Homo sapiens: one gene and its partners. The protein of the gene in region 2 interacts with the protein of the main gene of each other region in a biochemical or structural test. Each region holds a gene or a part of one and is shown on either strand. Other genes may lie near its edges.

Region 1 (3,749 bases), on a different chromosome or scaffold from region 2:
TTGAGACAGGGTCTCACTCTGTTGCCTGGGTTGGAGTGCAGTGGCGCTATCAAGGTTCACCGCAGCTTCAACCTCCCAGGGCTCAAGCCATCCTCCCAACTCAGCCTCTCAAGTAGGTGGGACCACAGGTCCACACCACCATGCCCAGCTAATTTTTTGTATAGACAAGGTCTCACTTTGTCATCCAGGCTGGTCTCAAACTCCTGGGCTCACCTGATCCTCCCACCTCTGCCTTCCAAAGTGCTGAGATTAAAGGAATGAGTCACCCTGCCCAGCCAATAATTCTTAACATTAGGGGAAAAAAAAGTATTGTGACTGAGCTCAGTTCATCTTGCACACACCCAGAGTTATTCCATACTACTCTGTGGAAAACACTTCATAAATATTTGTCATATGGGCCAGGCGTGGTGGCTCAGACTGTAATCCCAGCACTTTGGGAGGCCAAGGCAGGTGGATCACCTGAGGTCAGGAGTTAAAGACCAGCCTGGCCAATGTGGTGAAACCCCGTCTCAACTAAAATACAAAAACTAGCCAGACATGACGGAGCGTGCCTGTAGTCCCAGCTACTCAGGAGACTAAGGCAGTAGAATTGCTTGAACCCGGGAGGCGGAGGTTGCAGTAAGTGGAGATCACGCCACTGCACTCCAGCCTAAGCAACAGAGTGAGACTCCGTCTTAAAAAAAGAAAAAATTGTCATATGAACTAATGATCTGGGGCCTCATTTCTTCTCTCCAAGTAACAGCAGCAGCCACAACTAGCAGTTGGGCCTTGCTTTAGGTGTTACGTAGCAATTCCTTTTCTATCTTATTTGATCCTCTCAACCACCCAGTGAAGCAGGAAGTGTTAGTCCCATTTTCCAGATAAGGAAATGAGAAGTCACAGAGGTTAAGTGACTTGCTGAGTTTATGCAGTGGCAGAGCAAAGACCCAAACCCAGGTCTTTCCATCCCAGACCCCAGTCTATCTCCACAAAGGCAGACTTGCCTTGTAAACTGAGGCCCCAAAGAAATATAAGCAGGAAAGAGGGCACCTGGGTTCTCTGTGTTACAAATGGAGCAGATCATACAGGGTTTAGGACACAAAGAACCCAAAATAAAGGTAGCATGTCCCTGCAGTCCTGGCTACTTGGAAGGATGAAGAGGGATGTCAACTGGACCCAGGAGTTCGAGTCCAGCCTGGGCAACACAGCAAGACTGTCTAAAAAATGTCTGGGCCAGGTGCGGTGGCTCAGGCCTGTAATCCCAGCACTTTGGGAGGCCGAGGTGGGCGGATCACCTGAGGTTGGGAGTTCAAGACCAGCCTGGTCAACATGGCGAAACCTCATCTCTACTAAAAATACAAAAATTAGCTGCGCATGGTAGCGCACGTCTGTAATCCCAGCTACTCAGCAGGCTGAGGCAGGAGAATCGCTTGAACCCGGGAGATGGAGGTTGCAGTGAGCCGAGATCGTGCCACAGCACTCCAGCCCAGGCAACAGAGTGAGACTTCGTCTCAATAAATAAATAAATAAATAAATAAATAAATAAATAAATAAATAAATGTCTGCCACCTCCTCTCTTAGCTGCACACAGAAAACCTTCTCCATGACTTTTTACAGCACAGGATGGTAAATTGGGGCAGTGGAGACATCAGCCCTGGCTCCGCCACGTAGTAGTTAATGAATCTATAGTAAATTATTTTTCTTTTTTTTTATTTCTCTGTGAAGATTCCAGAAGTATACAGTTAAGTTCTGAACCTCAGTTTTCTCTCAGATAAAATAAAAACATGGCTGGGTGCAGTGGTTCATGCCTGTAATCCCAACACTTTGGGGAGCCAAGGTGGGCAGATCACTTGAGCCCAGAGGTTCAAGACCAGACTGGGCAACATAGCGAGACACCATCTCTATTAAAAAAAAAAATTAGCCAGGAATGGTAGCACACGCCTTTAGTCCCAGATACTTGAGAGGCTAAAACGAGAGGAGCCCTTGAGCCCAGGAGGTTGAGATTGCAGTGAATTACGTTTGTACCACTGCACTCCAGCCTGGGTGACAAAGCAAGACCCTGTCTCTTAAAAACAAAAACAGGCCGGGCACGGTGGCTCACGCCTGTAATCCCAACACTTTGGGAGGCCGAGGTGGGCAGATCATGAGGTCAGGAGATCAAGACCATCCTGGCCAACATGCTGAAACCCTGTCTCTAATAAAAATCCAAAAATTAACTGGGCATGGCGGCACGTGCCTGTAATCCCAGGTACTTGGGAGGCTGAGGCAGGAGAATCCCTGGAACCCAGGAGGCGGAGGTTGCAGTGAACCAAGATCACACCACCGTACTCCAGCCTGGCAACAGAGCTAGACTTCATCTCAAAAAAAAAAAAAGGCCGGGCACAGTGGCTCACGCCTATAATCCCTGCACTTTGTGAGGCCAAGGCAGGCAGATCACCTACGGTCAGGAGTTCAAGACCAGCCTGGCCAACATGGTGAAACCCCATCTCTACTAAAAATACAAAAAGTAGCCAGGTATGGCGGCATACGCCTGTAATCCCAGCTACTCGGGAGGCTGAGGTAAGAGAATCACTTGAACCCAGGAGGTGGAGGTTGCGGTGAGCCAAGATTGCACCATTGCACTCCAGCCTGGGTGACAGAGTGGGACTCCCTATCAAAAAAAAAAACAAACAAATAAACAAGAACAGCACCTACCTCTTGGTATTTCTGAAATGGCCAAATGAAATAATGCATTAAAACCCTTAGCACACAGTGCCTGTCATGCATAATGTTACCTATTAATTATAATATCATCAGTGGCATTATATTAGAAGGGAAACACACAGAAAATTGCCTCTTATCCTGCACTCAAAATAATTCCCTAGCCCAAGAAGTGAATGAACTGAGAAGTAATTACTGATGATCCTCTGGCTACACCCAGGCCTACGGTTGTTCAGCCACTCTGCCTCAGCCCCAACCTCAAGCAAAAATTACTTTTAGGAGCTAAATAACCCCTTTGCTGACCAAAATTGCTCATTTGGAAGCCAGGATCCTCTCTGCTTAGGAAAGCTTGGGTATTCCATGGTTATCTTTATCGTGGGGCCCAACTTGAAGTCAGCTCAAAGTCACGGTCTAACCATAAACCAATTTGCTGTTTTCGTAAACTGTCTGCAAACAAAACATAATCGTTTGGTTTTCCCGTTGTCCTGAAGCAAAACAAAAATATTTAAAGTCACTCATATGAGAATCTAACAAGCAGTTTAAAGAGGAGTCAAAATATACTTTGTACTCTGGATGGAACAGGTAAGGAATCAGGCTTAAGGATTAGCCATGAGAGATAATAAACCCAGTTATTATTCACCAGGAAACAAGAAAGTGAAGATAAAACAAAACCAAAACACTACAAGACCAATAAAACAGCTATCAGTCACCAGCTTTTTTTTTTCATTTATTCTTTTAAAATCAGCCCACATCAAGCTGATTTCTTAAAGAACCTGTCAGGATTAAATTTCTCAAGGAGGCAGGAGGAAAACTGCTTTGTCACATTGCCTAAAACATACACACAAACCAAAACTACTGTGCAAAACTGCTATGAGAATGGGAGGAGTCAGACACTGCAACTAGCAAAGTCCTCATGTTGGAATCATCTCTGACCGTCCTTCCTGTCTTAGAAAAGGGGAATGAGATGCCAGTTCAAAAATTGCTTTTCCGGGCCTACTAAGCACTGAGCCTTCCGGCATCTCAGCTTTCCAGCTTCCACACCCGCCCTTATTAATGTCCAAACAGAGCTG
Region 2 (3,749 bases):
GCTGAAGCCCACGAGGTCCATGTAGCTTAGCACTGGAGACTCGTTGATCAAAGTTGCTCGGCAGGTCCTCTCAGGGGCTAGAGGAGAAGCAGAGGGTCACCTGCTATCTTATATCTCCTTCTGGCCCACAGGACCCCTGCCCTTTGGCTCCTGGGAGACTGAATGTCCAAGACAGGTGGCTACTGATCGTCTAGGTCTCCCCTAAAAGGAGAATGATTTCTTAATATCAAACTCAAAGTTCTCCTGCTTTATCAGTGCCCTCATTGGCCTTTTGGCATTAGCCCTTGGGCCACTTTTGCCCAGCCTGGCCTGCCTGCCTGCCTCTCAGGGACACTAGACCAGCCTGGGGCTGAAGCTGAGTAGATCACTTTCCCTACCACGACAAAAGGCCAGGTCCTCCCATATCCCTGCTCTCTCCCTCCCTGAGGGTTCTACGCATGTTTCCGGATCCATAAACAGGGCTTCCGTTTAGGGGTCCACTACAGATCAGTTTTGGCCAGGTGGCTAGCCTCAATTTCTACATCTATGAAATGGGCACGAGGCTCCCTTCTTCTCAGGGTTTTTGGCAAGGCTGGGCATGTGAAGAGCATCAGCCTGTTTGGATGTGGGGTACTATGTCACTATGTCCACCCACCAGAGGGAACGTAGTTATCGTAAGGGGCCATGTAGTTGGAGGACTCGATGTCTGCATATTTGACGTCTCCTTTCATGTCCAGCATGGGCACATAGTCCACCGACTCGTCCTTGCTCATGTCCATGTAGCCACCGTCGCTCTCCCCGGTCAAGGACACATGGCTGGGGGTAAAGGAGCATCACAGGAGAGCCTGCAGGCTTTGCCTTCCCCTCCCCTCCTGCCCCTTGCCACTCATGAATTTCTTCTCTCACTCACACACTCACTCATCTTCCTTCAGTCTATCCCAGTAGGAAAGCCTGTGGATCAAGACTTTTCAACCAACCTGCTGGGCCAAGCTGGGCACTGAGGCTACCAAAATGACAGTTAGAACCCAGAGAGCTCACACCCAGAGGCGATTACAGCACCCCAGGGCAAAGGTCACAAGACGGGTGTGTTCAGAGGCGCCTTCCTGTGGCCTCCCCAGCGCCACCTGGCCATGGGAGTGCCTGACTGCAACCCAGCATAGGCAGCCAGGATTCACCCCGCTACCTATGCCTGTAGCATCAGCTCCCCAAAGAGCTGTGGGGCTCTACACACATCTGTCTCTATAGGCAGGAAAAAGATGGGAGAAGCCCTTTGGCTCCTGGGAGACTGAATGTCAAAACATTGGAGAGGACATGAGTGGGTTTTAAGGTCTTTTACGCTTTTCTGAAGCTACTCTTGTCTTTGTTTTTGTAATCAGCAACAGAACTAAGAAGTGTTCTTTTTGGAAAAGACAAAGACTGGAGTTGAGCTCCCTGAGAGGCAGTGTGGAGGCTGATGTGTAGAGGCTGCAGAGAGGAACACAGCCTGGAGCACCACTGTGCAAATTGGGAGGCTTGGCTCTCATCTCACCACAGCCTCTGCCCCTTCCTCCATCACTGCCTGCCCTGGACTGAAGGGCAAACACCCACGACACAGGGATGGCATGTCACATCTGTAGAGGGCTTAGCAGCACAGGGCCTGGCATTAGTGTTATTCCCTCATCTGGGGTGGACCATCTTGTGGAACAGCCCTAGCTCCAGGAGTGATTCTGTCCCCTGCCCTGTCACAGCCTCAGCTTCCCCTCCTGGACAAAAGGAGGGGAAGGAGCGGTGCTCCTCAGGTATCCCAAAGATTCAGTCCCTGGCCTCCCTCCTGGTACCTGGGCAGGGGGAGCCCAACGGGCAGAGCATTGCTGTAGAGCTCCGCGCTGGGCGGGCGGCGCTTGTCGGAGTGGTGCTGCAGGAAGGTGTGTTTGTTGCGGTGCAGGTAGTCCACCAGGTCTCCGTAGCGGCAGTACTCAGTGATGATATAGATGGGTCCTGCAGAGGGACAGGCTCAGGGACAGTCCCTATGGAGGCCTCAGGCGTCCCTTCAAGGCCATGAGGCTAATCAGGGGCTGGATGTGGGAGAGACACTTTGGCATGACGGCTAGGAGGCTTTAGTGCCTTGCAAATCTGGATTCTTTTCCTGCCTCTGTGGTGGAGAGCAAGGTACTTAGTCTCCCTGAGCCTTACCTTCCCCAGCTGTTAAGTGGGGCTAATTAAACCCACCACAAAGCACTGTCATGAGGATTAATGAGATGATGTCTTTATTGGCTGGGCACGTGGCGAGCTCGCAGTGTTGGCTCTTATTGATATGTTTTCAAACTAAAGCTTACTTTGGAGCCCAGTATAGAAAGCAGATAAAGGCCACTGTTTACAACGATCACTTTAGTAGTTAAATTCAACTACAATGCATTTACTTAAAGTCAATCAGTGAGAACTTGAAGATATCTACACAAACGAAAATGTTGAAATGAGCGATCATTGCAAACGTGAATAAGTCTATGTACCCAACATACTTCTGTATTTTATTTTGGTTGCATAATGCTGAGGAAAATCCCAAATCTCACAATAAGCAGCTGCAAATGGTGATAACATTTTTTTTCAGCCTAACTGGCAATCAGAGCTTCAAATAGACCCAGTTGGCCACAGAGACTTTCTTCTATGATCAAATGAAGGTAGCTCCCAAGTAGCAAGCTGGTGGTCTCCAATGGTGGGCATATAACTCATCTTAATGTCATGTGAGCTGTTATTTATTGGTTTTCAAAATGTATTGGGAAAATAAAAAAGTGTCAGCCAACACCATGGTCTGGAAGCTGCTGGGACTGGTGACCTGACTAATCCTTCAGCCTTGAAGGTGTTGTGATTTTGTGAGTTTCTAAACCCCACCGCCCTCTGGGACCGCGCAGTGAGGGCGCTGGAGCGGGTGGGCACGGACCCTCCAGCAGGAGTGTGCTGTTGTGCAAGGCCTGAGGGGGGGGTAGGCGGGGCCTGGCCTTGGTGGTGGGCACTTTCCCTGAGGCCTCTGGGGCAGTGGGCTCGGTACCTCCTTTGGTGCAGGCCCCCAACAGGTTGACCACGTTCAGGTGGGGCCCAAGGTGACTCATGATCTTCAGCTCCGACATAAGGGCTTGCTTCTCACTGCTGCGGGCTGTGGCTGAGGAAAATGGGGGCCCCAGGCCAGGCCCAGTCATGGAGGCTCCATGGAGGCCCCACCACAGGAGCCTATTCTGACTCTTCTGCCCCGCCCTGTGCTGCAAGACCCAGGCAGCCTGGCGGGGGTGAGCACCCACACTCTGAGGAGGGGAAGAGGCCAGGGTAGGGGGAAGCAGGCCGAGGAGGCCAGGGAGAGGAACGCTCTTTCCCAAACCAGACCCAGACTCGGGAGCAGTGCCTGCTGCAGTGTGATGGCCCCTCTAGTGCCTGCAAATCAGCATCAGGCCACCCTGGGAGAGGCTAAGTGTGTGGGGAGGGGCAGGGAGAGGTGAAGGCCCAGATGTGGAGGGCTCCAAGGACTACTCACATTTAAGCATCTTGACGGCCACTTTCATCGTGGCCTGAGAATGGCTCAGGCCATGAGCCGTGGCCTCCACCACCTGCCCAAAGGCCCCAGAGCCGAGGGTGCGTCCTGGTGCAGAGATGATCCATTAGCTCCTGGCCTACCAGGAAGCTGCACCGCTCCCCCAGCTGCCCCCCTCCCCCCACTCCCCTACCCCCGGCCGCTATCACCCTTCCTGCCCAGTGAGGGGAAAGAGCCACTCTCTTAGGTCAACCTAGACATTACTTAAACC
Region 3 (3,749 bases), on a different chromosome or scaffold from region 2:
TCAGAAGAAGGTCGTGACGGCCTTTTAACGGGCTATCAAAAGTGTGCAGCTAAAGCAAAAACAGTTTTGCATTTCTTTAGGCCATTTAGTAGCACAATTAAAAAATTAGACTCTTTTCTTTTCCTGCATTTTCCTTTGAACATTTCCCAAAGTATGTTTATTTCTAAAGGTAAATGAACGTTAGCAAGTATTACCTCTGCCCAGTGACACACATCCACATGTGTACTGGCACATACATTCCTACCTCAAGAATCTTAGTCCTTGAAACTGTGGAAATGAAAGTTATTTTGATTGAGGTAGCAGTGTCACAGTGATGTCATACGGTGTCACTGTCCCTGACCAGCCTCTGTGTTCCCTCTCAACTCCTTGGCTCAGTCTCCTCCGTGTCCTGAGTTCTTACTCATCCCAAGGGTCGTCTCTTACTTCTTTTCTTCCCCACATCTTATCAACTCCAAACTAGAGGGGATGGCATCATCTTTAAACTTCCACAGCACTTTCTTTGTGTCCCTGATTTGTCATCTGTGACATTCTTTCCTGCAGTTGTTTTTTTTCTTTTTTTAAGGCAGGGTTTCACCCTGTCACCCAGGCTGGAGTACAGTAGCATGATCACAGCTCACTGCATCCTCGAGCTTCTGGGTTCAGGCAATCTTCCCACCTCAGGCAATCTTCCCACCTCAGCCTCCGAGTAGCTGGGACTACGGGTGTGCACCACCATGCTCAGTGAATTTTTTTATTTTTATTTTTATTTTTATTTTGTAGAGACAGGGTCTTGCTGCTTTGCCAAGGCTGGTCTCAAACTCCTGGGCTCAAGTGAGCCTCCTGCCTTGACCTCCAAAAGTACTGGGATTACAGGCCAGAGCCACCATACCCTGCCCTATGGTTTTTTTGCCTTCATCTTTTCTTTACTAGATTCTGAACCGCTTGGGGGCAGACTGGTCTTGCCACTTATACACAATGAGTGTGCAACAAATACTTATTGAATATGTGAATAATGAGTGCCCAGCCTGTTAATATTGGGGCTCTAGCCTCCCACTGAGATTCAAGTGGTAAGAGACCTCCAGCATTCTTGTAAATCTCAGAACTTCTGTCTACTGTGGAAGGCTTTGACCTCAGGATGTCCAGACAATGGGAGAATTTGGTCTGTTGGCCTCTCTATTTGGCAAATTTTCTGTCATGTGAGTCATTTGTAGTCCTGAAGCTACATTTAAAAACAACAACAGCAACAACAACAACAAAAAAACAAAGCCAACCCCATACTCAACTGTATTACCTGGTGGGCTGGCTGAATGGTTTACTTTTGTAGGTTAGTCTGTTCCTATCAACCTGAATTCAAAACGCTGGGCAGACCGTTTGTGATCCTGGCCTGGTAAGTTAGTTATTTGTGTCACCCCTTCTTTCTACTGTTGTATTGGTAATGTTTTTAAGAGAAGAAGCTTCAAGTGCACTCAGAATTTTAAGTATTGCAGTTGCTTCTTTTGAGACAATTTTGGAAGCTGGGGTGCTTACGTTGCCAAATTGTTAGTGAAGACCGAAAATGCCATGATGAGAGAATGACATGTACTAATGCATGCACGCTCATTCATTGTTTGCAAAGTCCTCTTCACATACACCATCATATTTAATAGTCGAATAACATGGTGCACTTGGTTCTGGCCCTCATTTCTAGGTAGGAGACTGGGGATGACAGAGCTTGAATTTAGGTTAAGTCCTTCTGCAGGCCATACATGAGGAACACCAACGTGTTGCTGGGTAGAGTTGTTTTTTTGTGAGGCAGTTTACAGAACACAGTGTCCTTGGGTATCTGCCTTTGCCGTGTCGCAGCTGTGTGTAGATATTGGTGGAGCAGATTCTGGATGTGAGTTGACTGAGGTTGAGCGGTGTGAGGGGAGGCCGGCAGGAGCAATGTCAGTCTCTCTTGTCCCCACATCCTGGTTATGGGCCAGGGTTACCCTGGAAAGCCTCCTCAAGTTCAGAAAGCTTATTCCTGTTTAGTGCGTGTATTAGTCAGCTCCAGCTGCCTTAAGAGAATAACACACAGAGGCCGGGCGCAGTGGCTCACGGCTGTAATCCCAGCTACTCGGGAGGCTGAGTCACGCGAATTGCTTGAACCCAGGAGGCGGAGGTTGCAGTGAGCCAAGATCACACCACTGCACTCCTGGGTGACAGCGTGAGACCCTGTCTCAAAAGCAAACAAACACACACACACACACACACACACACACACAAAACAACAACAACAGAATGGGTGGCTAAAGCTGCAGACATTTATTTTCTCACAGTTCTGGAGGCTGGAAGTCCATGACCCCGGGGCCGGCAGGGCTGGTTTCTGGTGAGTGTCTCTTCCTGGCTCGTCTTCTTGTGTCCTCACTCACGTAGCCTTCCTTCTGTGAGTGCACTGAGAGAGAGGTCTGGTGTTTCTTCCTCTTATAAGAACATCTGTCCTGTTGGATGAGGGCCCCACCCTTATGGTGACCTTTTTTAACCTTATTTATGACCTTTTTTAACCTTAATTGCCTCCTGAAGCGTCCTGTCTCCAAATATAGTCACTTAGGGGTTAGGGCTTTACCATATGAATTTAGGGTGGACAATTCAGCCACTCCCAGTGTGTCTGTCTAGGTTCCACAACAGGGCTGATGCTTTTAGGAAGACCTGGTGCTCCCATCATCCAGATCTGGGATCTCTGTTTATTTGGGGACACCTACCAGGGATGGTTAGAGTAGTCACAAGTAAGGAGGGAACGTCAGCTCTTTATATATTGGTTGTAGCACCCCATAACAGGGAACAAGCCTTGGTGCTGGCCTTCCAAAGGCTGGAAAGGTTTTAAGTAGAGTGATTGAAGAGAGAGAAAAATCTTGACTTGATTTCATTTATGGAAACTTCTCTTCAACTTAGGTAGGTAGACACTTATTTGGGGGTTGGTTTGTCTTTAATTGAGACCATGATAAAATATCAGTGATATGCAAAGGAAAGTTTTTTCTGAACCCTGGATGAAGAGAGCAAAGCAAGAGGTGGGGCCAATGGCAGCCAGGGTGGAGAGGCCGTCTCCTCTGAGCCTGCCATCTCTGTGATCGTGCAGTCTTTGCCACATGAGCAAACATCCCTTAGCAGAATGTGCATGACGGTGGTGAGGTGCACCCTGAGCGTGGCTGGAATGTTTCTGACCTAGGCCATTTTGCCTTGTTCAGACATAAGGCAGGGGCAATGCCTGCATGACTGACCTCCCTCTAGCTCCAGATCTGTATGTTCATTGATGCTTTGTTTGCTCATTCATTCACATTCATATGAATTATCCAAGTTCTTAGTGGTCATTTCCACCATCCCAAACCATTTGCAGCTTCTCCTGCAACCTGCCCGCCTTCTCAGTTATATTCCCCATCACCGACTCACTCGGTTATCCTTGAATTCTCCCTCAGCTCCCAACTAGTTATCAACCCCTATTGATTCTACCTCCAAAAGATCTAACATCTCAGCCCTGCTGTCCTTTTTCTGTTTCCCCTGGACATCAAAACCACTTTTTAACCATTCCTGCCAATCCATCCCAGGGTGACTGCACCCTGACAGTCAGGTCTGGCCATGACCTGCACACGGTGGCTCTCCATCGTACTTGGGTCAGTGACTCAAGTCCCCAGCATGGCAGTCATGGGCTTGCACGACTGGGCTGCCTCTCTGTTTCTCCCAGCATCTAAATATCCCCTTCCCCATATACACACATGCTGAGCTACAAGTCATCTGTGGCCACCCACTGATGG

Evidence for each region.
Region 1: of the proteins of PDGFRB (region 2) and PTPRJ, one has a biochemical effect on the other in vitro, tested with the Homo sapiens proteins (2 studies listed by IntAct).
Region 3: the proteins of PDGFRB (region 2) and NCK2 form a complex in vitro, tested with the Homo sapiens proteins (2 studies listed by BioGRID).

What each region holds. Positions count from the first base shown.
Region 1 is NC_000011.10:47,983,462-47,987,210, reverse strand, and holds part of PTPRJ (receptor-type tyrosine-protein phosphatase eta isoform 1 precursor), read right to left. Parts: intron 1-3,749. UniProt on the Homo sapiens protein: Tyrosine phosphatase which dephosphorylates or contributes to the dephosphorylation of CTNND1, FLT3, PDGFRB, MET, KDR, LYN, SRC, MAPK1, MAPK3, EGFR, TJP1, OCLN, PIK3R1 and PIK3R2. Plays a role in cell adhesion, migration, proliferation and differentiation.
Region 2 is NC_000005.10:150,121,246-150,124,994, forward strand, and holds part of PDGFRB (platelet-derived growth factor receptor beta isoform 1 precursor), read right to left. Parts: intron 3,587-3,749; coding exon 3,482-3,586; intron 3,116-3,481; coding exon 3,005-3,115; intron 1,957-3,004; coding exon 1,797-1,956; intron 796-1,796; coding exon 635-795; intron 78-634; coding exon 1-77. UniProt on the Homo sapiens protein: Tyrosine-protein kinase that acts as a cell-surface receptor for homodimeric PDGFB and PDGFD and for heterodimers formed by PDGFA and PDGFB, and plays an essential role in the regulation of embryonic development, cell proliferation, survival, differentiation, chemotaxis and migration.
Region 3 is NC_000002.12:105,747,844-105,751,592, forward strand, and holds part of NCK2 (cytoplasmic protein NCK2), read left to right. Parts: intron 1-3,749. UniProt on the Homo sapiens protein: Adapter protein which associates with tyrosine-phosphorylated growth factor receptors or their cellular substrates. Maintains low levels of EIF2S1 phosphorylation by promoting its dephosphorylation by PP1.